Linked DNA regions of Homo sapiens: all the other regions are reported to be linked to region 4. Evidence: microRNA targets listed by miRTarBase, many of them from high-throughput screens and not tested one by one. Region 4 holds a microRNA gene; each other region holds the end of a gene's coding sequence.

Region 1 (4,059 bases), not on the chromosome of region 4:
CTAAGATAGAGGTAGCTGATTGCTGTTTCCTATCACATAGCTAGGTGTATCTTAGCTGCAAGAGATGCTGGAAACTCTAAGCCTCAAACATCTTAAGGTTTTATAGAAGGTGTTATAGGCAGAAATCTAAGATGTCCCCCAATATCCCTCCCTGATACTACATCCATAATTATTTTATATTGCATGGCAAAGGAATTTAGCAGATGTAATTAAGGTCCCAAATCATTTGATTTTGAGTTAGTGTCATAAGGGACTTATCTCATGAGTCTAACCTAATTATGTAAGAAGTTATTTAAAAGCAGAGTTTTCTCCCGCTGGTAGCCTAGGAGGGAGTCAAACAGATTCCAAGTGAGAAAAGGAGTTAACATGCCATTGCTGCTTTGAAGATGGAAGGAGCCTGTGGCGAGGATATGAAGGGCCTCTAGAAGCTGTGAGCAGCCCCCAGCTCACAGCCAGCAAGCAAACAAGGACCTCAGCTCAGCAACAGCAAGGACGTGAATCCTGCCAATAACAGAAATGAGCTTGAAAGAAGACACCAAGCTCCAGGTAAGAAAGCAGCCAGCCAACACTTAGAGCCTTGTGAAACTCTAAGCAGAGAACCCACCCATGCTATTCTAGACTTCTGACTACAGAACTGTGAGATATTAAATGGGTATTGTTTTATGCCACTAAGTGTGTGGCAATTTGTTATGCAGCAAAAAAAAAACTAATGTCAAGGAAGTCATTTTTTTACTTCTACCAAGGTTCACAAGGTGGTAAAATTTCACAAACACAAGGGTTCAGATACGAGGTGACCAAATGAATGGTAGAATATGCTCCAGGGGATAAGGGAACTGTGCACTATGTAAGATAAGCGATTTAGTCCTGCAGGTTTATGCCAACTACGAGAAGAAACAGCATGACCCATCTCCTAAAAATGTTCTAGTCTTCTAGGGCAGCTGATGCCAGCATGTACCCAAAGAGAAAAGATTAGTCCTCTGAAATGTTAGCTACAGATACCTTTTAAATAGAGCTCTGATTTGGCCAAAAACCCAGGAAACTGTATACTTAACTGAAAACAACCTAGAGTAAAATAAATCACACCAGCACAAAAGGACAAGTATCTACAAAATCTTTATAAATTCACATATTTTTCTGAAAGTGTACAAGCAGTCTCAATTTACTGGGACAAAAATGAACATTTTTGTTCTTTAGTAATGAAGTCAATGTACAATTCAGAGCAGGTGTCCATAGAAACAACTAGGTTTGAAAAAACTTAAGACAATTCACAGTTGAAATCAAACAAACACTGTGAATGTGTTAAATACTTGCCATATAACAACACTTTAACATTGATCTTGCTAAATAAGGCTATGATTCATAAGATGCATGTATTTCCAAAGCTGTTTAACATTCTTATAAATTAATTCACAGGATTCAAATAGTTGCTTTTTAGCTTCAACTGGGTATTAGCAAAAATAATACAAAATGATCCCCGTGCAAGCACAAATTTACCTTCCTTCCTAAATAAAACATGACAGATTATATTACAACTTGATAGCCTCTCTTTTAAAAAGTCTGTGACATTATTAAAGAGGTGACGGAATGCTTGTTTTGCAAACCCCAACACATCTTTCACTGTGGACCATTGCTATTACTTCATTAACACAGTTGCTCAGATCTCAAGGTACTCACGGTCTGAAATATATTTTACAATTAGAAGGTATGCACAGGTCAAAAAGAGCAATCCAAGGGTTAGAAGTCCCCAGTGCCCCACACTGGCTCATTGCCGAGGTGACAGGGTGCAGGCTGTGTGAGCCAGGCACACTTACCCCTCAACTGGGCTTCTGTAGCTTTACAATTTGGATAACTAGTTAGCGGACAGTAGTTGGGACATGTCACATACAGATTTGAGTCCTCCAATAATGTACACTTTGCCAGGTTTTATCCCTTTGTTAAAGCAAATAGAACAGAGAGGGAATATAGCTGCCAGTAAAAATCATTTCCCCCCTCTTAATCTCCCATCCTTCATCTCCATGAAACCGACTATTAAGATAACCTTTCTCTCTCTGTGCACTAGTGGAAAAAGTAAAGTTCTATAGAAACTCACAGTTAAGAGGGACTCTGAATACAGCAAGTTAAGGCTTTTAGTGCAAATAGAATGAATTCCCACTAAGGTCAAAAGGTTTCAATTGGGTACCATGCTGACTTCTTGGTATCTTTTAAGGCCTAATTTTCCCTTCCTTGAGATTACTGTAGTGTGTTCCAGCTAATTTCTATTTGGAAACGAGTTGGAACAGCTGAAAACTAGGTATTATTGAAGGCAAAGCAGCCTCACGTCAGTTTTTTATCAGCTCATTTGGGAAGGTTTTTTTTTTTTTTTTTTTTTTTTTTTAATTAATTAGAAAGTAGGCTGGGCACGGTGGCTCATGCCTATAATCCCAGCACTTGGGGAGGCCGAGGATCTCCTCTCTGGTGGATCACTTGAGGGCAGGAGTTAAGAGACCATCCTGGCCAACATGATGAAACCCTGTCTCTACTAAAAATACAAAAAGTAGCTGGGCGTGGTGGCATACTCTTACAATCCCAGCTACTTGGGAGGCTGAGGCAGGAGAATCACTTGAACCTAGGAAGCAGAGGTTGCAGTGGGCCAAGATCACACCACTATACTCTAGCCTGGGCGACAGAGGTGGGGAAAAAAGTAGGACCCCTGTCCTATATTCAGGTTTTTCTCACATATATGAACCCATCTAAATTCTACGTTGTTAAAGGTAGCTTAGGTTAATTAGTCTATACTTATTTAAGAACAATATGGGGTGAGATGGATTTTTTTTTAAAAATCCTAAAGTAAGGCTTTCTACTTTCCTTCTAATGAGGAAAAAGGTGACAAAAATTCAAGTGTCAATGTCCCCTTCCTGGGAAGAGGTTTAGAAAAACAACAGCTCACCTTCTGAACTCTACCAGTTCCTTTTGAAGTTAACGAAGCATTAAAATCAGATGTAAAAAAAGAAAAAAAAAGGCAGGGAAATATTTACAAAACTGGACATTCTTTACAGATATACAATCTTGCTAATACTGGGAGAACCATACAAGGATGTATAAAGAGAGACAGTCACCTTAGTAATGCAAGGATAGAGAAAACCAGGATATAATATGTGTTTTTTATTGCCAGAACATGGTGAAACTAGGAGGAGCAGAGATGACCTGATCCCTGAAGTGAACTGCTCAGCTATTCTGTGTACCTCAGGAGGTCTGCAAGTGTGTGGTTAGGTAAAAACTGAGCTGTGCAAACTCACTGTATCCAAGCTCTTCTCATGAGAGAGCAGAACAACCTGGCAAGCTTAAAGGCAAGTGTTTTCGTTCTTTTAATTAAATAGGCTGTGACAAAATTAACAATAAAACTAGCCCAGAACCAACCAGCCCGGTAAGTGTCGTGCAAATCTTGCAGTAACAAAAGACCATCTGAGAGACTACACGTTGGTCTCCAGTCCTAGCAAGCGTCCCATTCTCTCCACATTCTTATCAATTGTAGCTTGACATGTTATCTCCTTGGCACATTCCATAGGAAACCAGCCTCTTTCTCCATCTCGTAGTCGTTCCCCCTCATACCAGCCTGTGAAAAAGAACAGAGTCCACACCAAACAACAAGTATTTGGAGTGTGCCAGGCTCCAAGGATATGAAAAAGCTGAGAGGCAGCATCCCTCCCCAGGCTAAGTGCTACGGTGAGAAGAGAAAGTGGGACAGGGAAAGCTTTCGAGGGGGAATGAATGACATGGCAGGGAAAGAACGTGAGCAGAGGCCCTGAAGTGAGAAGGCTGAGAGTATTTGAACCTGGGCTGAGCTGGGAAAGGAGATGCTTTGGGTAAAGGATAGCAGGAAGAATGCTATTTTTGAAAGGACGAATATTTAGAGATAAGAACTGGGTCACTGAGGGACTGGGGAAAAAAGAAAACGTCATGGTTTAGCCTTAGAGATGAGAAGACAGTACATATATGTGATCTCAAACATTAACATGTCAAGATTTGGAATATGGGCAATGATGACAAAATGACACTCCTCGGGTCTATAGCACTCTGCAT
Region 2 (4,068 bases), not on the chromosome of region 4:
AAACAAGTCACCTTTTAACTTTAAAACTACTTTAAAAAACTTTAAAGTTTTAAAAAAACTTCTTTAAAAACTACTCATGAGATGACAGTTTCTCTGACCCTCAGAGGAAGGCTGGGCTGCGCATACGTGAGGAATTTTTACATGAACATCCCAGGACTTGCTGTTCGCAGGTGATAAACTGCACCTCCCCAGGACTCCCGCTGCACTCACATGCAGCTCCCTGGACTTCTGGTATCTGACCCGGCCCATTTCTGTGTTTCAGGGGAGAATTTGGCTTGCGGGAGTACTCAGAAGTTAAGACGGTGACAGTAAAGATCCCCCAGAAGAACTCCTAAGAAGGCCAAGAAGGAGGATGAAGCCCAGCCTGCACGTCTGTCCCTCTCTGCTTTCTCTGTAGGGCCCAGCTCTCAGGAATACAAAGTTGAGCCACGGTCCTTACTTAAAGATTGAAAAGATAACATGTAGGCCAGGCAGGTCACTGCACAACTAAAGCAAACCAGCTGGGTACAGTTTCTTGGCACTCTGTAAGGGGCCACCTTAATCATACCAAATATTGGGGAAAGTGGGATAAAGGGAGGAGGAGGAGCTAGCAGACACATCCAGTATCTCCTTCTGGAGCACAGGATGAAATAAGGGAGCTGTATTATTTCATGTCTTTGTCACAAAGAACTTTCCTCTCAAGGAAAGGTGACCTTTCTCCTGTCTTCATTTTCCTCCTTCCAGGCCCTCCTCGCTCACCCACCCCTCCCTCTCTTCCAAGGAGATGTCAGCTGAGCTCATTCTGGGGCAGATGTTTGGGCCGGGAACAATTTTTCAAGGTTGTAAAGCCAAATTATCATTTCATGTTATCCATTTCTTCAAAGCAAAACATGAAATGGTTTTAGCTAGAGTCAGACCAGAATGAAAATGCCAGGAGCTGGTACACTACAGATGTAGTAAGAACCTGGGATATTCCTGACCCAATCTGGTTTTCTTTTACCCATAAATAACATGAATGAAAAAAGATTGGGACAATAGAGACTGGAAGTCATCATGTGCAGTTCACCGCTTCTGAGCTTGCTGCAGTTTTGGGGTGTGTGTGTATTAGATTCCTTCTCAGTTATTCTGGAATAAGGCAAGGAGTGGGTTGTTTTTCATAGCTAGATAAGATCTTTTCCAAAGTTTTTCTTAGAACCAACCAAAAAACAATCCGAGTAGGCCCAAGAATTTGATAATGCTGGATGCCTTGCAGACATCATTCAGTTTCTAATATTGGGCAACAATTATTATTAAATGAATTATTTCTGTAGTTGGAATCTGTACCTTCTGAACCTCTACACCAATAACTGCTGCAGGTGTGATTTTGGTCTGTCACACTGTACATCTATCATAATGTGCCCTGTATCTATTGGCAGTGACCTTGGAAAATCTGGCCAAGCCTAGGGGTTTCCTTTTCCATTTGCCAAGTTCCATTGTGCCAGGACTGCCGTGCTCCACTGAGCTCCTCTGTCACACCCCATTCTTGCCCCTCACTGGGCAGGCCATGGCCTACAGCTTGCAGGGAGTAAAGCAGGCCCGCCTCCCTTTCTTCCCATCCACATACTCCTCTTCTGCTTTCCAGTGACTCCACCAGTTTGATGTGGGAAGTGTTAGCTTCCTTTCCTTCTTCCATCCCTTCTTCCATCTTTCCAGCTGTCAAATCCAATCCAGTCTCTAACCTAAATGCAGATCATTTATTTAAAAGTACCAAACATAACCCAGAGTATGTGGAATATGGGCAACATATATATAGCCTTCTGTATTTAACGATCTTCTGCTTCTTAACCGTACCAGTTTTCTATTTATAACTCTTATCTATCCATGATGTTTTAAAGTCTCCACTTGCTGTTATTTACAAACGACAGTGCATTCAGCAGCCCAGTGCCGTGAGCCCTGACAGATGCCGTATTTCTGAGTGCTTCCATGTGAATGCTGCCCTCCTGTAGCATGTGTCCAAGTGGACATAGCCACTAACCAACTAGTTACCTTTGGACTGCAACAAAAAATGTGAAAATGAAGATTTATTTCTTTTAATTTACTTAAAAAGAAACCTCTGTGCTAGCAATAAAGCATTTATATTGTGTACTCCTTGGGATTGTTTGGCTGTGTCTGTAAGTCTTTGGGTCATACTGAGTCTCTTTGGGTCCTTCCTCAGCTGCTGGGTTTTTCAGCTGTGTTGCCCTCTTGGGTAACTGAGCAGAAGCCTGCAAGGGTATTTTTACAGAATTCATTAAGGCAACTGGTAAATGGTATTAAGGTAAACAAAAACCTTATTTTCTGATGCTATTTAAAATCTGTGTGCATGTGTAGTTTAGCTGGCATGTAAGTATAACCATATATGAAATATATGAAATAACAAGTTTCCTTTAGAATAGCCTCCATGAAAACTAAAATGCAGAGCAGTCTATAGGGTCTGTTTTCACAAACGTGGACTACCCGCCGTGAGCTCACATTGCTGATGGCATTTCACAGTAGCTTTATTTTTACTTACTTACCAAAGTGAAATGAAGTCAGAGGCTGATAACCTGATGGAATATTTTTGCAGCTGTAAAAAGAAATCTGTAAATGGTGACCGTACTACTACCAAGATTGAGCTTGTTTTCTCTCAGTGTGTTCTCAGAGTTGCGCTTTTGAGGAGTGGTTCCCACCCTTTAGAACCGCACAGCTCCCCACCTTTCCTTCCAGCCCTTGGAATCTCCACCCAAGTTCCGATCAAGTGAGACAAAAGCTAAACCTAATGAATTAGCCCCAGAGCAGATCTCGCTTGGGGGACAAGAAGCATTGCTGTGGACTGGGGTTCACTGCTCTGTTTGCCAGTAGCTTATTTTTTAGAGGAACAGAAGGAGCATGGGAGAATGCAGCCCCTGCAGCACCAGATGGAACTGAAATATAAGATGCGGGACTCCCTGACAATCCACCTCATGTTCTGTCCATTGAGCCATCAGGAAAAAAATGAGAAAGGCCTGGACATGAAGTAATCATTTGAAAGTCTTTTAGAAAGGTGCCATTGTTGCACGTATAGATAGCAGGAATCTGGAGTCAGATAGACATGCGAAAACATTTCTGATGAATAACCTACAAAGGCAGAGAGGAGAGGCCAAGCTCGGCATATTTATGTGACAGTGAAGAGATGGGCTGGCAAGAGCAGGCACTGCATGCTGGCAACTAGTCAGACTACAGAGGGTCTTAGGTCAGCCAGAGCTGTTCCCTAGTAATGTAATAGAAAACAGAGACACTCGTGGGCTTTGAGTTGGAGTGTAATGGAAGCAGTGGTTGGAGTATACTGGTCTGGAGCAAAGCGGATGAAAAGAGACTGATTACAGAGTTTGTTTGCCATAAAACTATGGATGGCATAATGCTAGGGGGGATGGAGAGGAAGGGAACAAATCAATGGAGAAGTTACTGGAACTTAAGGAATGAATATGATGATAGAATGGAAAAAGTTTATTAACCAGGGAAGGTAGGAAAATGGTAATGCCCCTGCCAAAGAAGCTACAACATGAAATGCAGTTGTGGGGAGAGATCTTGACTTCAGGCTTTTGACACGTGAATTGTGGGGTTATGAAGGGACATCCAGATAGAAATCTCAAGCAGGCAATTGCAGATGGGAGATTCGGACTTGGCTCAGGTGGACCAGATTCTCACATGAACATAAAAGTGATGGCTGCAGATCCAGAGAGGGTGAAAATAAAACCAAAACCAAGGCCAGGGAGAAAAAGCCCAGCAAAAGAAATGGAGGCTGTAGTCAGAGAAATAGGAGGGAAGCTCTACAGGTGTTAACACCCCAGAAACAAGGCAGAGAAGTCAAGGAGCACAGGCAGCAAGGGGTTGAGAAGTAGAGGGTGGTGTGTGGAGCCCGTGCATTAGGGGCTTTTGATCTCTGTCTTGATGAAGTAGAAGCTGATGGTGTGCATTAGCTGGGAGGGGTGATGGCAGTACCCTGCTCTAAGCTGTGAGCCATGTAGCCTCCCCCGTGCCTGAGGACAGCCCCTGCAGTGGCAGGCCCTCATCCTGAGCCGTCCCACAGACTCCCCCACCACCAGGCAGGAC
Region 3 (4,068 bases), not on the chromosome of region 4:
GTGGTTTCACCCCTTTCAGTAGTAGGGAAATTTGCTGGCGGCAATATACACCACTAGAAATGGTGCCTGCCTTTATATTGCTCATGCTAATCTGTAAAGCTGGGGTTAAACTGAAGTCACTATACTGGAAGCTGCTCCCCTTTAAGCAATCATTATCAAGAACGTATATCTGGTTAGACTGTTTAGTTTGCCAGGGCTGCCACAACAAATTGCCATGGACCGGGAAGACTAAACAGAAATGTATTGTTTCCCAGTTCTGGAGGCTGGAAGTCTGAGATCAAAGCAATGGCAGGACTGTTCAGAGGGCTGTGAGGGAAGGACCTGTTCCAGGCCTCTTTCCTTGGGCTTGGAAATGTCTTCTCCCTGTTTTCACATCATCTTCCCTCTGTATAAGGCTTTGTCCAAATTTTCTTTTTCTAAGAACACCAGTCATATTGGGTTAGGTCCTAACTTAAGGACTTCATTTTAACTTAATTCCTTCTTTAAAAACCGTATCTCCAACTACAATCACATTTTGAGATTACTGGAGGTTAGGACTTCACCATATGAATCTGGTGGTGTTGGCAGGGGGCGGTGTGTTCACCTGTAACAGACCATAATCACTTGTGTATATGGAGATATGTCATTCCTTAGTGTGTGCCTCCAAGTTTGGTGATCAGATCATCAAGTTTACATACTTGATGAGGTGCTGACAGCCTCTGGCATGTTTATGCTTCTTGAGACACAGGTAAAGGAGTGTTTACTAGAAAGCGGGGACACAGGTCAAGCGTGAAAAGGCTGACGAAGACTCTACTTCCTGTTACCTCTTTGCCCTCTGAGAATCTCAGCACAACAAAAATGCCAGGATTATGAGCCACTGACCTTTTTGAGAAGGAAATGCCAAGCATACAGTGAGCTGCAAGAATACTCTGAACTAGTTTATAGGCTTTGGCCTTGAAAACTCAAATTATTCCAGTTTTATTTATATTACTAAAATCTAGAGCTTCTTGGATATTCTATATGTCAATTTTTTTTAGTGTAGAAACCTATGTTAAAATGAAAAATGTAGACTAATGGGAAACTAAAGAATATCAGCTACTGTTTATGTTGAGCACTGTGGGAGCCACTGACACGTATGAACTTAACATCTAAACAGTATAATGAAGCGGCGCTCTTAATACTCTCCATTTACAGTTAAGGGAAGAGGCATAGAGAGCTTACATAACTTGGCCAAGGTTACAAACCTTCATCACACAGCAAAGCCCACACTAGAGAACATTCTGCAGGGCTCCAGAGCCTACATACACATCCTGCCTCTCACCGTGACCATTTACTCAACAGCAGCAAGGCCACCCAAAATGGGCAGAAAAGGCTGAAAACATTCATGTCAAAGGGCACTTACTTATTTATTCATCTTGTGAAAATGACTTAGAATTTAAAATTAAGAGGTAAAAAAATGGAGAGACAGTTGTAAATACTAAGCACTAACAGCTACAACTTCACTAAAAAGGTTTCCAAGCTTCCTCTGCTGTTTGTGTTCCTCTGACACTAGGCGTAACTATCTTGGGCATCATTTCAGTCTTGGGAATGAAGGAAGTGAACCCAGTGTGTGCTACTGAGATAAAGGAAGAAAGGGAGCTTAGAGTCCCAGTACCAGTGGTTTCCTGGGTATGGGGGAACCAGCCAGCTGGATGCCTTTGGCAAAATGCTGAGTTTGAAGCTGCCCTAGGAACCAGAGCTGCCCTGAGGGAGGCGTCACGACCCAGTGTCAGCAGCCAACCCTAACCATCCGCAACACATCCCCCAACCCTCCACTGCAGACCTGCCACATTTCTCCAAGGAGGTAACAGAGTAAAGGCATACCTTAGGCAGGAACAGGGCAGAAGAGGGTTGGAAGCACAGGAAGCAGTTTGTCTTAAGTACTAACAGCAGAAACAATAAGAATATGATCTCAAAAGCTAAAATACTCTAGAAATGCTCTCTTCTTCTAACCTCAGAAAGATTCAAATTGTACTTGACTTTCCCTAGAAGACTCACTCATCTCCTTCCTCCATGAAATGAGACTACCAGAGGAATCCTGTATTTTAAAAAAGTTTAATTTTAATCCTTCCTAGAGGAATACAGATTTGAATGAAATACATTCATTCCATAAATACATTAGCAGCAAAACCTTCCCACCAGAGTCCTCTACTCCAGCCCAGAGGTTGTGCCTTGAGCAGGAGAGCATGTTCCATCAATCCTGTCAACTTAAGGGTGGGTCTGCTTCTGAGAAACGCTGGATGTGCATGGGAGACACAATGACCAGGTGCATGGGTGACTTAACTAAGCTGGGACCCTGAAAACAGGCCCATGTGGTCACTATTCAGCCTTCTTTACCTTCCAAAAATCCTTTGGCATCTTCCATGCTTCTCTGATGAGGTTCCTCAGCACTGAGACAACTGGGAAGACCTAACTTTGCACATGCATTAAATAATGTTATTTTGAGTTGGCAATGTTTTAACACTTTTCATAAGGTAAATGAAACATAAAAGATTATTCCCTTCCTTCCCTTCCTCAGGTGAGTCCACATGTACTCATCAGGAGACAATCCAGCAGGCATTATTTGGGCTCTCTGTATCTCCAGGCCCCCTTTGTCTGAATGGCTGGATGTTTACTGGAGACAGGGAGCCATGTCTAAACCTACAAAGATCTCCACGTTACAATAACCAGGTGACTTGCTCAGGCTTCCATCAAAGCTAATTTCTTGGGCAGAGGCCAGGCATCTCTCCTCTTGTTCTCTCCATCACTGACTACTGACTGACTGCTGCTTTTTTATTTGCCCTCCAGGCACCTGCCGAAACTTTGGAAAACAAGATCTACCCTAAACTTCCAAGTGGCCAGGAGCAGTTAAGGCAGGTCCTGCTTTAAACTTACTAGCTGCCAAGTAGCACACTTATGCTGCTGTGTCCCAATCCATTCTGTGGTGAGTATAAGTCACAAGAGTCTGCATAAAACACTATCAGCAATCAGGATGGCTATGGGGCAAGGACCGTTTAGAATGTTACCAAGTCACAGGACCAGCAGGAAAATGGAATAATGGAAGAATGTGAAATAAATCTGATTTGTTTGAGCAGAAGGCAGCTTTGATTCAGGCATAAATGCATCTCCCAGATTATCATGTAAATAAAGACCTCAGAAGTTGACACTTCCCTCCCAGTCCACCACTTAAAACAGGACACATGCTCAGTTTTCCCAATCTGTTTTAAAGTGTTTTCATTAGGATACTCTTCTGTAAGTGCTTTATTCATTCCCAGTCTGTTTTGATTACTGGCTGAAAATAAATCAGGAACCATTTTATATAAAAACCATTATAGTAGATAACTGGTTATGTGTATTTTTCCATTTGCATTTTCATCCAAAATTGCTTGTTTCTTTTCCTTTTATTTATGTGCAGAAAGAGACTCATCCGCTGAATACACAGCACTGTTAATCCTACAGTCTTCTGTCCCCACAGAGTCTGCTAGATCTTCCTCTTCTGAGTCATCCTCTTCTTCCTCCTCTGGTGCTGACGAACTGGAGGTGGGCCCTTTGCAGGTTTTCAGGTGGCGGGTGAGATGGTATTTGGTTAGATAAGCCTTTGTACATTTTTCACAGACATAATCCCGTTTTCCTTCATGAGAATTGAGATGCTTCTTTAAGTGATTTGTTCTCAAGAACAGCTTATCACACTTGGGACACTTGATCTGGCGTTCTCTAAGAGGAACACAAGAAAAAACATTTGATTTGGGGTTACAAATAACAACTGAGGCAACACTTATTCTTCATAGCCGCAGGCCTTTGTCAGAGCAGCTCTATCCTTCTGAATCAGGCTTTTGCATAGGTGATATACAGAAGACTCATAAAACATGTATAGTTTAAAACAGTGTAGGCTCATTTTTCCTGTTTTAGAATACTATGTAAATTCTCAAATTCTATGTAAATTCTATATGTATTTCTTTTGTCTTGCTGCATTCTCTCAGTATGATGCTCATAAAATTCATTCAAGCTGCTGTATCAGTTGTTTGTTCCCTTCCACTGCTGTATACTATTTACAAATATACAAATACACCA
Region 4 (4,068 bases):
GCAAGACCTGGTGAATCCTATAGATGAATTATTTTACTCTTAGTGGAGAATATCTACATATAGATATGTTATATTAATCATATTTAGAGGCTATTTCTTATAGATTTCTCTATTTACTGACTTCCCAGTTTAGTTTTTCTTCAAAGCAGTACCCTGCCTAGTTGCATGCACTCTTCATTTTTTTTTAGAGTCTTTTTTCTTCTTCCATGACTTTTCTATAGTCTTTTCCTGGTTACTTTCTTCTCTGCTTTCCTCGGTGTTCTTTTCGTGTATGATTTTATTCTTTCCACCAGCCCCATTTTTCTATAGCTAAAATTAAAAGCACATGGAATTTTAGGATTGTAAGGACTCTTGGAGACTAATCAAAATACTTTCATATTTCAATCTGTATTTAATATCCTGGAAAAATGGTTGTTCAGATGGAGAATCTGAAACTCAAAGTGACTTATTTAAATATCAGAGGTAGCAGAAGTAATATTTAAACTCATTTCAAAGCCCATTACTCTTGTTTTTATAACATCATGTGAGTGAGTGTTTGAATAATAGAAAGAAAAGGGAATGGGTCTAATTAAACAAATGGAAAGGGATAAGAATGGAATTAGCTGGAGAACCCAGTGGAAGTAGATAAGAATGGAATTACCAGGGAAAGGCCAAGTTTGAAGAGAAACAATCCCAGGACTGGTAGGAGTAAGGATTTTACCAAAGAGATCAGAATATTGGATCTTATGACAAGTTTGATGAAGATAAATTAGAGGAACAAAAACACAGATGACATTGGGAGTTATCTAGAAACTCATACTAAAATAGGGTTCAAAGGAAGTCCTGAATAGGTCGCTGCTTTTTCGCTTCTTTAATTGGAGAAATGGACACACTTCATGCTTTCTATTGAAAGATTAAAAAAAAAAGCCACTGCAAAAATTCTCTGCAAGCAGATAGAAATGTCCTATTGTGTTCTTTCACCCCAAATCTCACAGGAGTGGCTTAGAGCCCCTTGAGTGCTAGGGGATTGAAGGTTGCTGAATTACATAGATCTGTGGCCCAGGGCAGGTGTCCCCTCCCCTTTGCCTCTTTTTCCAAGCCTCTGATGTCTTACCCATGTACATGTAAAGCAGGGGTAAGATTGGCTGTCAAATAAGTCATGGTTCAGTTGGGTTTTTGATAACATGCTTACGCTGGAGGTGAATGACTGACTGAGACTCCATTTAGTTGTTTTCCAGGAACAGGTAAATACAGAGCTTCTAGGTTGGTCATTGAGTTTATCTTTTCAGTAATCTGTGCTTTGATGAGCAGAATATTTAAAGGTTGGAGACTGCCATGAAGCTCTGCAGAAGAAAGATCTGGAAGTGGGAGACACTTTTACTATATATAGTGGCTCCCACTTCCAGATCTTTCTCTCTGTGTAAATATAGTATTTAGAGAAATCCAACTATCAGGACTCAGTTTTTCTAGCAGTCTCTCTCCTTGGGTATAAGTACCTATGAAGATTTTTAAGGCTTTTCTAGTTTATGTAGACCTGAATAAGGAAAGACAAGTACAAAATAAGTAATTAGATTTTATTATTTTTAATGTTTCAATTTTTGTTGAGAAAAACATTCCCAATAACAAATATACATTTGTGTTTTGACATTTGTAGGTTCAGCTTTTCAACATTTCAAATATTTCAGGGCACTCTCTGCAGTGTTTTAGGGTGAAGGGAAGCAACAGGGCCTTCTTAAGTGGTTTTTATGCTGAAAAACAAAGAATGTCATTTTCCAGTGACACAGATTAGTCTTTGAATCAGAGATAGATAATGGAGAAGAAACAAGGTAAATGTATCTTTCTACCTCATTTTAGGTTATCAAGTTTGTTCCAGTTTAGATATCAAAAGTTATGTCAGCCATTAAGTAGATTTTCAGTTAATCATTAAGGACAGTTTGTGAGGACGAATTATACTCAGGGTATGCCAATTATATTGGCTGTCACTACTTATTATGGAACTAAGAGTCAGTCTTCATTGGATGTTATAGGTTGGGGAGGTAGAGTCAAAAATAGGTAACTAAAATCTTTTTTAAAAACAGAGGGCATATTTTAATTATACCAAGAAGCATGATTTAATATACAAAGACTGATTTTTCCCAGATTTTGGTTTTTGTTTTCATTTTTTGGAGTGAGCACCAAGATATGAACTAGCAGATTTTCTTTTTAAATATATGAATTTGCTTATTTTTGTTGTATCTTTTTTTCTCTAAAATCTGTTCAGCAAACTGACTATTGAAAATTCACAGTCTACAAAACTTAAGGAAGACTTTAATCTTGCTACCAATGTAAAATGGTCTCTTGTGAAGTTGATTTTCTCAGTTGGAATCTAGTTCTGTATAGTATTTACTTTTCATGTTTAGCAGTGGTGTAATTACCATTATTTCATGTTGGTAATATAAAGTTGGTCAGATAAAAACATTTTATGGAAATATGAGTAGTTGATTTAACGTTTTTTTTTTTTTACTTTAGTAAATAACAAATGATTGGTAAATATTTTGAGGGTGTGAGTGCCAACAAAAGGAATGGACTGGAGAATACATAGTGATAGGAACATTATATTAGAAAAAACTTTTCCACAATACAGAATATATAAAATCTGGTAAAGGTTTATTTGGATAAGTGTACTTACTGTGACTTTTAAAATTATTCTATTGTCACTTAAAAAACTCATGCTTAAATTTATATTTAATGGATCCAGTTACTTACTATAGTAATCAAGGAATCTCTCTGATACTGTTCAGTTCCAAAACTGTGCCACATAGCATATAGGGTTTTTTTTGCACGTATTATTTTGATATCATGTAGTTTTTAGGAGAGAGCTTTTTCTCAGTTTCTCTTCTTGGTTCTTTAATTACACCAAAATAATATTAGAAATTGTGAAAATTTTGGGGGCATGGTGGTACATGCCTGTAGTTCCGGCTACCAAGGAGGCTGATGCAGGAGGATTGCTTGAGCCCAAGAGTTTGAGACCAGTGTGGGCAACATAGCGAGACCTTATCTCTAATTTTATTTTTTATTTATTTTTTTGAGATGGAGTCTCGCTCTGTCACCCAGGCTGGAGTGCAGTGGCACGGTCATGGCTCACTGCAACCTCCGCCTCCTGGGTTCATGCCATTCTCCTGCCTCAGCCTCCTGAGTAGCTGGGACTACAGGTGCCCACCACCATGCCCGGCTAATTTATTTTATTTATTTATTTATTTATTTATTTTGTATTTTTAGTAGAGATGGGGTTTCACCTTGTTAGTCAGGACAGTCTCGATCTCCTGACCTCGTAATCCACCCTCCTCGGCCTCCCAAAATGCTGGGATTACAGGCATGAGCCACCATGCCCGGCCTATCTCTAATTTTAAAAAATAATTGTAGAAATTTAGAAATGTAAATTCTCTTTCTCAGAGTCTGTATTATTAAGGCATGCCAGTGTGTTTTCTAAATTATTTCATTAAAAGTATATTTTACACTCTTCATCTCAATGAAGAATGCAGGTTTTACCCCAAGTAAACAACCAGTGTATGGAAGCAGAGAATCTTACTAAGCATATGGTAGAATTTTAATTTCAGAATTTTTAAATTGCAATTTTTAAACATATTGTTAAAAGATTTTTTATCACATTTGAAAATTTTAAATTTTGGAAGATTTTGTATTGAGTTGTTTAAATAATCGTTTTGAAGTTCTTGCATCACTATAAGATACTGCAGGTTAGAAAACATACTTGTGTGCAGCCTAGTGTACCCAGAATACAGTCTTGCCTATAAAAAGAGTTTTAAAAGTTTTCAATGTGAATAAATAAGCAGAAAAATGAATTTTTATGTAATGAAATGTTACAAGTAAGATAATATGCATAATATATCTTATAATAAAATCTAATGCATTTCCAAAATATGGCTTAAATGTATATTTTCTTTTAATATTTAGAATGCATAAATTCATGTGAGTTATCTTGAGAAAATATGTCTTAAATAAGACAATAAATCAGAGGTATGTAGTAAACAGGAAAGAAGGTTACACTATATCCTCCAAGTGGAGTTTAGATTAAAAAAATTTTAATATATT
Region 5 (4,066 bases), not on the chromosome of region 4:
CCTTTCAGTCATTCTTTCAAGGAAAATGATGACCCACTAAAAAAAAAATGTTTAACTTCACTCACAACTCATGCAATTACATAATGGCTTTTCCACAGGACAACTGCCTTTCCATCAGTATGCACCAGAAATGCTGCCTATGTTCTTACACTGACTATTAAACAGATGTGTGCTTGAGGTTTAAAATTTAGTAAACTAATGATTTTATTGCTTCATCAAGGTCACTGGCTTTTGCTTTTTTTTTTTTTTTTTTTTTTACTGTAAGCTTATGGCAGTGAAGAACATGACCTACCTGTACAGCTTGGTGTCACCACCTTGATTTGTGCTCAGGCACTAACAGTTTCACGTGACCACCATAGATTTCTGTACCAATATGTAAATAATACAGTGAAAAAGGCAAATAACATCTTAGTATTAGTACAAAAATAGCTTGACTTCATAGGCCCCTTGAAGGGTCCCAGGGACCCCCAGGAATCCATGGACCACACCTTGAAAACCACCACATGACAGGGATATCAACATAAGGAATGATGGTGAGCATTAAACATATCTCTACTCACAGAACTAAGACTAACAAGGGAGCAAGTAGTCTATGCAATGGTACAGGATCAACTAATATAGACATAGTTCAACTAGAAAGCGGGGGAGAACATAGGTAAAAAGGGAGAACACAGGTAATAGGGAGAATGTAGGTAAAAAGAATTTCAACCGTTTTCAGTAGCCATTTTGGTGGTTGTGTATGAGTGTTATTATCCTTAGACTGCTGTCTATGTTAACTCAGGAAAAGCAAATAAGTATGGACATTCTAATTGTGTCTGTCCCTGTGTCCTTGAAAACCAGAGTTCTTGGTATAAAAGAAAGGAGATGCAGAAGTAATATAGAGAAGACTGATTTTTTTTTAAGATGGAGTATTGCTCTGTCACCAGGCCGCAGTGCAGTGGTACAATCTTGGCTCACTGTAACCTCCACCTCCCAAGTTCAAGCGCTTCTCTTGCCTCAGCCTCCCGAGTAGCTGGGACTACAGGCGCGTGCCACCACACCCAGCTAATTTTTGTATTTTTAGTAGAGACGGGGTTTCACCGTGTTGCCCAGGATGGTCTCAATCTCTTGACCTCGTGATTCGCCCGCCTCGGCCTCTCAAAGTGCTGGGATTACAGGCGTGAGCCACCGTGCCTGGATGACTGATTTTTTTAAATGTATACATGTATAAATGTTTTATTGCCATTGAACAGGCTGGACACAATGACCATTCCTATCTATTTAGGCTCCCCCACTGCCCCTCTCCCTGCTTTCTTTCCATGTCCTGACCGAAAAATCACAGAATGCCTCTGTGACCCAGCCAGCTGCAGGTTTTTCCCAGCAGGCTCGAACCCAAGCCAAGGCCTTGAACACTCCCAGGCACTGATAAACGTATCTAGGTTGTTTCTCTAAACACTGAAACTTTGTCCCAGCCCTGAGCCAGGTTCCTTAAACCTTCATATAAGCTCCATACCCTGACCCCCTCGCTGCAGACATACCTAGGCAGAACATCCCTTTTCTCTTGCTGTCTGCAAGGACTCCTGAAGCCCTCTGTAGGTAAATTCCCTAAACAAATGTTTTGGACTGATCACCCTGGCATTTAGTGCTTCTTTCTTTGAATCCTAACCCACACCATCTCAGAATGGTTTCAGGAACTTCCTTGTGGTAACTCCCTTGACGCCACTTTTGAGGTGACTCCAGCAGCGGGTTCAGTGGGACAAAACACCCTAACGCTGGATTATAGTCTTAAATGTCATTTCCCACTAAACTAAACCAGGGATTTCTGGAAAAATGGCTACCTCCAGGTCTGGCCAAGAAATGAACAAGATGAACCAGAAACATGTTGTCATCCCAGATAACAAAGAAATTATCAAAAGAAATTTGCGTCAAAAGAACTCAGTTTCATTTTTAGCCACTTGAAGAAGTTTTCACTCACCAAAAATGTAGGATATAAGCTTTAACAAGCATAAAAATTGCAATAGAGTAAAACCTATCAAACATTTAAATCCTTCTGTTTATAATTATTTAAAGAATGAAAAGTAAAACCTGATTGGCCATCTGTAGGTTTTATTAATAGTAGGAAACCAATTTGCTAACTTGAAAACTGGTAAATAAAAGGAGAGTCAAACACTGATCCTGCCTTTCCACTGTACCACTAAGTAGCCCACTAGTAAGTGGAGGGAAGTGTCTCTTCACTAGTAAATGAAGGGAACTGTCTCTTTGTAGCATTAATAAAGCATATAAATGAAGAAAAAATGACAGAATACCACCATTTAGCAATCCCCAATAAATTAACAGACCTAAGCAATTAGTATCAATGGTTGCTAACATCACAAAAAGAAACAGCTGGAAATTATGTCTCTCATGGTGAAAGGCCACAACACCACGTATAGATTTTCCAAAGGAAAAGATTGAACCAGAGTCTGATCCAGCCTCTGCATCCAGATGCCAATTTGCGGGAGGCACAGAAGGCAGAGGATGTGTTACACTGCACCATGTGTACGCAGCCAGCAAAATCCAGAGTGTGGGAAACTCTACAGGTCAAATGGATTGAGCTTTTCAACAGATTAATCATAAGGGGGAAAAAAAGGCTGATGGGGGAGAAACCAGTGAAGTATGAGAGACGTAAAAGACAACTAAGCTGTGGCGTCCAGGAACACATACCTGGGGGACTAGACTACAAAGACATGAAAGAGGTTACAATAAAATCAGGATATGGTCACTTTCGAGGGGAAGGAGAGGCTTTGATTGGCCTGACGTACAGAGACTTCCGCTGGAGCTGGCAAAGTCCTGTTCCTTGACTTGATTACAGGGGTTTTTCTTAAATAATTCACTAAAATGTACATTTTTTGTATCTCCATTTTATTTGACAATAAAAGGTTTTTAAAAACAGTGAAAAGGAAACAGTGACTACCTGAGCATTTGTCTTCTGAAGACTGTGGAGACTGCAGTTGGAAGACAGAAAGCTTTGGAGATCATGACTTATAGGAGTAGGGCTGGACCACAGAAAAGTAAATGATTTGGGGCTGGAAGGAGTAAGGTCTCAGGGGAGTTTCTGGACAATGCCCTTGGCAATGGGGATTAATGATGTACACGTAGAAGGGAGAAGGGCAGATGGGTGGGAGATGCATGATCTCAGAACACAGAGCTCCAGAATCAGTTCGGGCTCCTCCAAGGATCAGGGAAGAGAGTTATTCCCAGAACATTGACCTCATGAATGTCCTTTACCTCACCCAGGGCCCAGACTACTCATCACTACTTCAGGCTCCAGAGAGAGAAGCTTCAGTGAGGACCTTAGCATGACTGAGGGAGCAGAACAGCTCTTGAGACCTGGAGGCACAGTGATGAAGGTCTCAGGAGGCAGCCTCACCACCCCCCACAGCCGTTCCAGAGACTCAGGGGACAGTCCCATCCAGACAGCAGCAACCTTACTCCTCCCTACCCCCATGTCATCTCCCTCTGGCCAAAGAACCGGGAGAATGATCTGCCACTCAAAGACAAGGAAAAAGAGACATTACCTCATTACCAGACATCTGCGTCCTCACATATCCTGGAAAGAAATCGAGAAAAGAATGGATTGCCCCAATTAGGACCCAATATGATTATCCCGAGGGAAGAACAAATGGCTGGCAAGGTCAGCACTCTCTCTGCTTATCCCATTTCTAGCTTCAGAAAAAAATTATCCCGGTGATCCCTGAGAGGCACAATCAGCTTTCCTTGCCTCAGATCATTGACGTTAGGGAAGGTGGGAGTGGGGAAGGTCTGGGACAGGTGGCAGGGCACTCCTCACAGGCTCATTACCTTTCTGAGCCCTTAGCTGGATGACGATTCCCACCAGAAGGAAGATTAGCCCAAGTAGGAAGGCTGCAATGCCACTCAGCATCTTTCTCCAAGAATATTCAGACTGAGCTCCTATGGGAAACAGGTCTTTAAATTAGTAAAAATATCCCAATATTTAAAGCACTTTCTTGGAATCCCAGAATCTGTACTAGACACCAAATCCAATGCTAGCTAGAGAAAAATAAATAAATTTAGAAAAGGTTCTTCG
Region 6 (4,068 bases), not on the chromosome of region 4:
CCTATGGGCAGTTTATCTGCCAGCTTAGAGAACCAACTAGAAGCTTTCTTGGATGGAACTTTACCCTCAGCCAATGAAATTCCTCCACTACAAAGCAGCAGTGAAGACAGAGAGCCCTTCTCTCTGATCGAGGACCTCCAGAATGATCTGCTGAGTCACTCAGGTATGCTGGACCATTCACACTCACCCATGGAGACTTCCGAGACCCAGTTTGCTGCAGGTACTCCCTGTCTGTCTCTCGACCTGTCAGACTCAAACTTGGACAACATGGAGTGGTTGGACATTACCATGCCCAACTCCTCTTCAGGACTCACTCCTCTCAGCACCACCGCGCCGAGCATGTTCTCTGCTGACTTTCTAGACCCACAGGACCTACCGCTGCCATGGGACTAACGTCACAGATTTCTTTTCTGAGAGTTGATGAGGTTTAAGAACATGAAGATTCTAAAAGGTCAGTTTTTAGAGATAGATCTATAGTTGCATTGTTGCAATCAAAATATGTTGTCACAGAAAGAATAGGTGGAAGGTCATAGCCTGGAACCCAAGTTTGAAAACATTTCATTGTGTTCAGTAGTGAATTTCTACAGTTTAACATAGCACAGGGCCTTCTGAAAATCGCACTTGTCAAAGACGACTCATCTATTTCTCCAGACTTCAGTAAAGAATGAAAAGTACCTTTAGATAAAAACAAAGAAGAGTAATATATGCAGCACAGTGACGTTAGGATTCTGGTAATTAACTACATTTAAATCTCTGGTCACTTTAAGACCCTAAATAAAAGGCAGACAGCTCCACTCAAAAACTAAGGCTGATGTGAGGGAGGTGAGAGGTCACTGCACTTGGTACTTCCTAGAGACGGCCGGAGCCAGGCCCAAGACACAGCAGAGGTCAAAGGCAGTGGAGAGCCTTGGCCAGTTCAGTGACAGCTTCTGGCTGAAGACTTTTGGTTCTATTCAGAAACCTGTGTCGTTTTTTTGGTGTTGTAGTTTATTTTGTGATTTTTTGGAATCGTACTTTATATTTCCAAATTTAAATTTAAATGCAAGATCTTTCAACATAAACAGAAGATACCTACAAAATACTGTCAGAAGTCCAGGTATACTGATAACACTGAAAATTCTATTAGCAACCTTCTGGGTTGGTTAGATTGATTTTAATGTATATATTAGACATTTGTATGTATGCTCTGACATTGTGATTTGTACAGCCTACGCTGGGGTAAGGAAATGGGTATCCAAGGTCCTACTTTTTTAATAGCTCGAATATTTCTAGAGTACTTGAGCCACATGTATTTCTGTATTTAAAGAATTGCTGACTAACTTTCAGGTAACCAGACCCATCTCAAAGAACCAAGAAAAGGCTTTAGCATGAAATATCTTTCTGAGCTGGCGAGTTAGAAGAATGGAAGGTAAGGGGAAGGTCTGTCATCTACCCAGGACATTCCCATGATGAGTACAGGTCAGATTGTGCCACAAGGTGGGCCTCCACGTCCCTGCCCTGGCCCTCTTTCTTCTGTCACTAACCCTGGTTATCATTTTACAGGCTTGTAACTGGATATTCTACCAGAGCTCTCACTATATTGTCAAGCCTAAGATTGAAAAACTGGAGGCTTTATTAGTGTTTTTATATAGAAAACAGTTATTACATATGTGTTAAGTCATTTCTTAAGAATTTTCTAAAATGCCAACTATCACAGGATTATTTCAAGCTAGTCATTGAGGTATATGACAAAATGTAAATAACAAAAAACTGAAATCTACCAAAAGAGCATGGAGATTTTTCTTAAATAATAATATTGTGCTCTCCACCTCACCCTTGTGTAAACCCTCAGGTCAGGTTGGTTCCCCTGGGTCACAAAATGGTAAATGTTCCATACTGACATGCCGGAGGCAGCCTGACCCGTTATTTGGAAAGAATTTGTGAATTATTTCTGGGTTTGTGTTTTGCCTAAGAGCTGATCTTATTTCTGATTTGTGTGTGTGTGGTTTATAAATTTTACTACGTGTAACAAAAGTCTGCTTTTCCAGCATGAGCACACTGGAGCCCTCTGCTCACTGGCACTTCCTGACTCAAAGGCACTAACAGTGCTCATGTGCCTTCCAGACGGTTCAAGGCAGAGGCCACTGTGCTCAGTGTAGTCTGTGATGAATAGTTTAAGTGTTCAGAAATTGGTAAACCAACACACGGGATACAATAACTCTCTGTTAACCAGAACACCGTCATTTGACCAAGCCCTACAAGAGTTTACCACACTAGATGTTCTGTGAATCCTCGAGTCAGTTCCATTGAGAGGGGCCTGTCTCCAGGGCCAGGCTATTTACTTGGGAAAGTATTTTTCTTACAGTTCTTGGCCACAGTTTTTTTGCTGAGGGTTTCTGTCTGGGCCTATCAGGTCCATACTTAGACCCTGAGCATCTTCTTCATTCAGATTTGAATGGCTTATTAAATTAGCACCAAATATCAGTGGGACTGTAGAAGGTAACCGAACACTAGTACCATTGACTCTCGTTGAATAACTTTATATTTCCATAATCCTGAATTGTGTAGATAGTTTTCTAGCTCTCGGGTCCCTTTATTGCTTTTTAAAATAGGGTTTGAAACATGCCACAGGAAGGTTGCTCTCCAAAAATACACAGTGCAGTGCAAGAAAATGCTATCTCATTGGCCTACTCTCCTATGAATTGCTAAAGTGCCCACTTCACATATGTGTTTAAACCTTTATAAACCAGTATTTCACTTTTAAAAAGACAAGGCATCTCTACCCATTAACTCTGCAAGCCACTCCACTTGCACCATTCCGCTTGACCCTCCTCTCTCCTGGCTTGGGTCACCAGCCAGGCACCTGTGACACGAGTGCTGCTCTCCAGGATCTCCACTACATGTTCCAGGTTGGAGTGAGGACGCGCTATGTGCTCACACTCATGTGACATGACCAAAGATGATACTCTGTAAACAAGGCCCTTCTGACCGGACTCAGTGCGTGTGATGGTGAGTGCAATGAGGAAGGGTGGATATTGACTAAAGACTGGTTGTTGTTGTTGTTTAGGTTAGTGTCACAGCCATTACAGCACAAGTCAAAGTCGCCAGTTGAATTTTCATTATGCACGTGTGTGGTTTAAGCAGTGGTACTGTTGTATATCATATTGTAAAGTATCATACTGCCAAGAAAATAACTCCTAGAAAGGCATTATCTCACATCCCCATCTTACTTTCCTACATGTTCTCAAAACACAGTAGTACCAGCCTTACCTTTCTGCTGTATGTAGATAGTCAGATCATCCTACTGGGGGTGGGATGAATTTAAAAGTTATACCAAAATTTCTGTAAAGTCTTTGAAAGTCTAGGAGTAGGTGGTCATCTTGTACATTTCAGCAAAGCATCCACTAGGAAACCTCATAGGACAGTGTTAGTGGTTCACGTTCTAGTGTTTTTCCTGAAATGTGCAATCTACTGTATAGTATTGCCACATAATTGTACATAGATGTATTCTGAATTTGTGGAATTTCTTGCTTAGATACTATTGTGTTTGTTTCATATGAATATTTTTGTAATTCTAAAAGAGATCTTATTTAAATTTCCTTTTTAAAAGCCGCATGGTTCTGTGATCCATGTAACTGACACTTTTTGGCTTTCAGTGCTGTTTAGAAACAGTGGCAAAGGCAGGGTGGTGCTGCCTGCAAGCTGCTGCCTATGGAAGGCAAAGTCATAGTAATGAGATAGCACCTCTGAACTGTGCAGTCAGCATACCCTGAGTGATGGCTCAGGGGCGCACTACCTATTTTGTCACCAGAGCTGACTCAGGCTTCCTGGACCCTCAACCCCAGATCATTCCAGGCAGCATAGCTTTCTTCACAGTCCTTTCAGAATTCCCAGGCTGAAATCAGCCATAGCAGTTGACAAAACAGCTATCCCCACAAGTGATGAGATAGTCCCTTTACTGTCCTCAAATGGACTTGGCCTTAGAGACGTGGTAAAGCACTTTGGCAGGGTTTAAAATATTTGTGAGAAGCCCACATTTCAGTATACATCCTCACTGGCTTCCATGCACCCACCTGACGGTAGCCTCAC
Region 7 (4,068 bases), not on the chromosome of region 4:
GGCCTTCCTGGGGGGAATGGTGAGGAGGGGCTGCTAACTGAGTAAATTCCCCCAAAGGAAAACAGGGACAACAGTAAAGAATAAAGGCTTCCCCCTCCCTCCCCAAAGCCGTTTCCTCTCTAGGCAGAGTAAAACAGAATCTCCAAACACCCACGGGGCAGCTCCTCCACCTCCCCTCGCCAGGGACTTAGGACAGCAGTGGGGCATAAACACCAGGCTCAGACATGACACCGAGTGCACTGAGGCCACGCACAGCCCCACCTGCTTGCCCTCAGCCCCCTGCTCTGCTCTGAGTGGCAGGGGACTGACCCGGTGGGTCGCCTGTCCCAGGCTCCCAGGGCAGCTGCTTCCAACTGGGTTTCACTACTGTGAGGCACCTGCAGGACTCTGGAGGCCAAGAGGAGGGGAGAGGCTGGGGCCCCCTCTCTCTGCCTGGGGAAATGTTTCTGACAAGAATCATGGCTTCTCGAGGCTCCAGCCCCCACCAGACAGGTCCACAGTGTGGCAGGTCCCCCAGTGGCCTTGGCCCCAGGCTCTGGTGACGCGTCCTCCCCTGGTGCCCAGCCAGTCTCAGGATGGGGGCGGCTTGCTGTTGTTGTTCCCCACCTCTGGGTTGCCCCTCACTCCCCTGTTTTGCCTCTCAGCTTTTCTTGTTTTGTGTTAAACAAATCTCTGGATGAAAACCCCCACTTGAAATCCATTTTCCTGGGTGGGCCCTGAGAGATGGAAACTGGGCTGTGCACAAGGGGAATTGTGAAGGGCAGGCTGAAACCTTCCGGCGACACCCTCCAGTCGGCCCTCCTCTCTTGCGCACCTTTAAGAAGTGAAGGGTGGGCAGGCGATGACTGAGCCAGAGGGGGAGATAGCCTGCAGAGCCTGTGTCCTCACCCCAGGGGCATGTCTGCTGGGGGCTGCGCAGACAGTCTCTGCACGTCCACCCATGTGCTCACTGAACCACAGTGACATGCCACTGACACACAGCAGGGACACCATGGCCCCAGAAAGGGAGCGGGTGGCTGGGAAACCCTCTCAGCACCAAATGCTTCCAACGGCAAAGGCACAGACTAGAGGCGCCTCGGCACCCTTCCTCCATTGCCTGGGGGATTCTGTCAGAACGAGGGGGCAGTTTCCAGAGACAAAGGGAGAGCGTGAAGTCTCAGTCAACATCACCCTCCTAGGATGACTGGACTACAGAACCACGAGCTTTACTTACAAGAGGAAGGAAAAGCCTGCTTGGCACACGTGGCTCGAACAAGCTGCGCTTTTCCCAAAGCCAAATGTCAACTGGGTAGATAGGAGGGGCCTCCCTTCTCCTGCTTCAGACCTGGCCTGACTCCTGTCTCCAAATCTCTTGGGCCTGGGTGAGAGGGCCTCTCCCAAAAGGCAGAGAAAATGAAGCTGGCAGCTGAGTCACGGGCAGCTAATTGTTTCCAGAATCTGCAGTCACCACTTAGTAGGGGTTCAGAGAGAAAGTGAAAGGGTGAGGGAATCATTTCCCCTTCTGGGTCCAAGTACGACAATAAATCCAGAGCAGGGTACAGACAGACAGCTTTCCTGTGTCTTTTTCTTTAGGGAAGAAACATCCACGTGATGCGGCACCTCCTCCCAGGTCTTTGCTGAAGGGACCCCTCAGTGGGAACCCTGAGGAGAACCCCTGCCTGCCACCTCCACCCCTCTCACCAAATGCTTCTGACACAGGCCCCACCCTCAGCGCCCCAAGCCAAGACCCAGCACAGCTCCAAGAGTGGGTGGTGGTGGAGACATCCCATGCTCGCCCTTGCAGAAGCCTAAGATGAGAACCAACTCCTCCTCAGAAAAGAAGCTGAGATGTCTGCAAAACCGCCCTCCACCTCACACAGCACGCTCTCTCTGCCAAGCGGAGCTCAGCCTCCGAGGACACAGACATCTACAGCATCATTATCCTTACCAAGTTACCTCGTGCTTCCCAGGGTGTCAATTCAATTGTAGCCACTCTGTCTTGCAACAGCTTGGCTATTTGGGCCTCTCGTATCTGCCATCCAGCTGCCTCCTAGTAACCCCAGAGATGGCTGGGAGATCAGACTCCAGTTGTCTTTCTTGGGACTGTGACCCTGTGCCTGCAAACAGAGGGCAGGGGAGTTGCCAGCCTCACATCTGCTCAGGGAGCTCATCGGGCGCTGAGCTATTCCTATCCTTGCAGCTGCCAGCACAAGTAGCACAGCTACTCAGCACAGCTGAGTGGCCAACTGTGATGCCACCAAGGGCTCGTGCCGAGGGCAGGTGGGAAACACGAAGAGCCCAAGCCAAAGGAGCAGGCAGGTCCCCCGGGGCCTAGGTCACATGTGCTCACAAGATGTTGGGCTGGAGGGGTGGGGGTCATGGGGTTGGCCACACAGACTCATACCCACAAACACAGTTCTCTCACTCCACACCTCTAGGCCAAACAGAGTCTGTCTGCTTAAAATGAAACTAGGTCATTTGTGACCTGCTGTAGGACCCACCTGGCAGCAGTTCTTCATCAGCTGGTTTGGCTGCAAGGGAACAGGGCAGTAAGCAAACGGCTTGTCACAGTGATACACACGCTTGGCACTTTTAACAACTGCTCTTGCTGGAGCTGTCTGTGACCAAGCAGAGCCGGGCAGAACACCAGTTTCTCTCCAACCACAAAACACAGATGATGAGTTTACAGGCTTATCTTTTGTCAGAACCTCGGTAATTCTGTTCCTTGGAGGAGTAGGAGGGAGGGTCACATATAGGAATGCAGAGGGTAAACAGCAAATTCCCCCATTTCAAAAAAACAAGGATGAAGCCTATCGAGAAAAAGCTGAGTGACGGTAACAGCAAGGACAGGGAAATACCTTGAACCTCATAAACACTGGCGCATTTCTTAAGAAAAATCCATTCAGAAAGATGCCATGGCCCTCCTGTACATATTTAGTAACTATACAGCATAAGACCGAGCTGAGCGGACACATGCAGGGTGGCAGCGGCTCTGAGCTTGCAGCAGCCCCACTGCCAAGTGGCCGCTGTTGCTGGGTGGGGCGCAGGGCGCTGCAGAAGGGAGGAGGTGGAGGGGTTCCCTCAGCCCCTCAATTCTCAGCAGGTCTCGCTCCGTAACAGCGAGGTCTCTGACAAGAAAGCGAGGTGCTGCTGATCCACACGTGGAGACACAGGATTTGGAACGTGCACTCCCACAGTTCCTTCCCCGCCCCATTGCGTCTCCATGGATGCACGCAGAGGTCTCCCACTGAAATGTACTGGGAGTGGGGCTGCCTTCTTCCCAGGCACGGCTGTGAACATCAGCAGGACAGTGCAGCAAGTCTTGGATTGTAGAATGAATCAGGGAAAGCTCAGTCTGACACACAGCACGTGAGTTCTAGAAAAGGGAAGTAACAGTGTGAAGGTTAAACAAGTCCCGATGGTGGAGGCAAGATGAAAGGGAGGATGGACTCACCCCTCCCAACATCACAACCTTCAGGGAAAGGAGGCTCAGCAGTAGGTCAAAGAAAATCTCATGACTAGGCCAGGTGTGGTGGCTCATGCCCATAATCCCAGCACTTTGAGAGGCCAAGGCCGGTGGATGGCTTGAGGCCAGAAGTTCAAGACAGTCTGGACGACATAGCATCACTCTGTCTCTACCAAAATAAAAATAAAAAGTTAGCCAGGTGTGGTGGTGCATGCCTGTAGTCCCAGCTACTTCAGGAGGCTGAGGGGGGAGGACTGCTTGAGCTCACAAAGCCAAGGCTGCAGTGAGCTGTGGTCGCACCACGGCACTCCAGCCCAGGCGACAGAGCAAGACCCTGTCTGAAAAAAAAAAAAAGGGCTCACAATGTAGTTTAACACTGGATCAAAGGGAAAGTTTAATTAGGGCCAATAAAATATATAATTGATACTGAAGGACGGAAAGATCTTAAAAGCTGGGTTTTGAATAGGCGGGTTTAGTGGTCACTGGAGAGGTGCTACAGTACACCAGGCAAGAGAAGAGACTCATGGAACTTTTCTGACGGATACTAAGGAATAGGGAACACAGTTGGCTGGGAGGAGGCACGATCTCATCTGAGCTCATCATAATTAATCATAATGATGTGG

Evidence for each region. The annotated mature microRNA hsa-miR-3156-3p reads CUCCCACUUCCAGAUCUUUCU and lies in region 4 at 1,373-1,393, shown strand. An mRNA with a match to its seed (bases 2 to 7 or 8) in the 3' UTR can be bound and repressed. Matches are read on the target gene's strand: a 7mer-m8 pairs with bases 2 to 8, a 7mer-A1 pairs with bases 2 to 7 and ends in A, and an 8mer does both.
Region 1: the mRNA of ARHGEF26 is a reported target of hsa-miR-3156-3p. Seed matches in the 3' UTR shown: 8mer at 2,146-2,153.
Region 2: the mRNA of ALDH1A2 is a reported target of hsa-miR-3156-3p. Seed matches in the 3' UTR shown: 7mer-m8 at 562-568 and 7mer-A1 at 1,619-1,625.
Region 3: miRTarBase lists PRDM4 as a target of hsa-miR-3156-3p. Seed matches in the 3' UTR shown: 7mer-A1 at 2,151-2,157.
Region 5: the mRNA of HLA-DOB is a reported target of hsa-miR-3156-3p. The part of its 3' UTR that is shown has no 7-base or 8-base seed match.
Region 6: miRTarBase lists MRTFB as a target of hsa-miR-3156-3p. Seed matches in the 3' UTR shown: 7mer-m8 at 2,463-2,469.
Region 7: miRTarBase lists MTA3 as a target of hsa-miR-3156-3p. Seed matches in the 3' UTR shown: 7mer-m8 at 3,222-3,228.

What each region holds. Positions count from the first base shown.
Region 1 is chr3:154,254,864-154,258,922 of GRCh38, reverse strand. ARHGEF26 (Rho guanine nucleotide exchange factor 26) reads right to left here. Exons shown (of 15, transcript NM_015595.4): 15 at 1,098-3,592. The coding sequence ends at 3,450. Among named protein-coding and RNA genes, the nearest start is that of DHX36, 68 kb to the left of the region's middle.
Region 2 is chr15:57,951,464-57,955,531 of GRCh38, reverse strand. It overlaps ALDH1A2 (aldehyde dehydrogenase 1 family member A2), which reads left to right. Exons shown (of 13, transcript NM_003888.4): 13 at 263-2,103. The coding sequence ends at 335. Among named protein-coding and RNA genes, the nearest start is that of ALDH1A2-AS1, 110 kb to the left of the region's middle.
Region 3 is chr12:107,730,812-107,734,879 of GRCh38, forward strand. It overlaps PRDM4 (PR/SET domain 4), which reads right to left. Exons shown (of 12, transcript NM_012406.4): 12 at 2,060-3,711. The coding sequence ends at 3,399. Among named protein-coding and RNA genes, the nearest start is that of PRDM4-AS1, 3.7 kb to the right of the region's middle.
Region 4 is chr10:45,162,690-45,166,757 of GRCh38, forward strand. It overlaps MIR3156-1 (microRNA 3156-1), which reads left to right and starts at 1,325; the gene lies at 1,325-1,399. It also overlaps the pseudogene ANKRD30BP3.
Region 5 is chr6:32,809,904-32,813,969 of GRCh38, forward strand. It overlaps HLA-DOB (major histocompatibility complex, class II, DO beta), which reads right to left. Exons shown (of 6, transcript NM_002120.4): 4 at 3,820-3,930; 5 at 3,537-3,568; 6 at 2,860-3,348. The coding sequence ends at 3,313. Among named protein-coding and RNA genes, the nearest start is that of HLA-DOB, 5.1 kb to the right of the region's middle.
Region 6 is chr16:14,261,052-14,265,119 of GRCh38, forward strand. MRTFB (myocardin related transcription factor B) reads left to right here. Exons shown (of 17, transcript NM_001308142.2): 17 at 1-4,068. The coding sequence ends at 393. Among named protein-coding and RNA genes, the nearest start is that of TRT-CGT2-1, 23 kb to the right of the region's middle.
Region 7 is chr2:42,752,661-42,756,728 of GRCh38, reverse strand. It overlaps MTA3 (metastasis associated 1 family member 3), which reads right to left. Exons shown (of 17, transcript NM_001330442.2): 17 at 1-3,355. The coding sequence ends at 3,330. Among named protein-coding and RNA genes, the nearest start is that of OXER1, 9.4 kb to the left of the region's middle. RefSeq lists enhancers at 1-114, 115-685.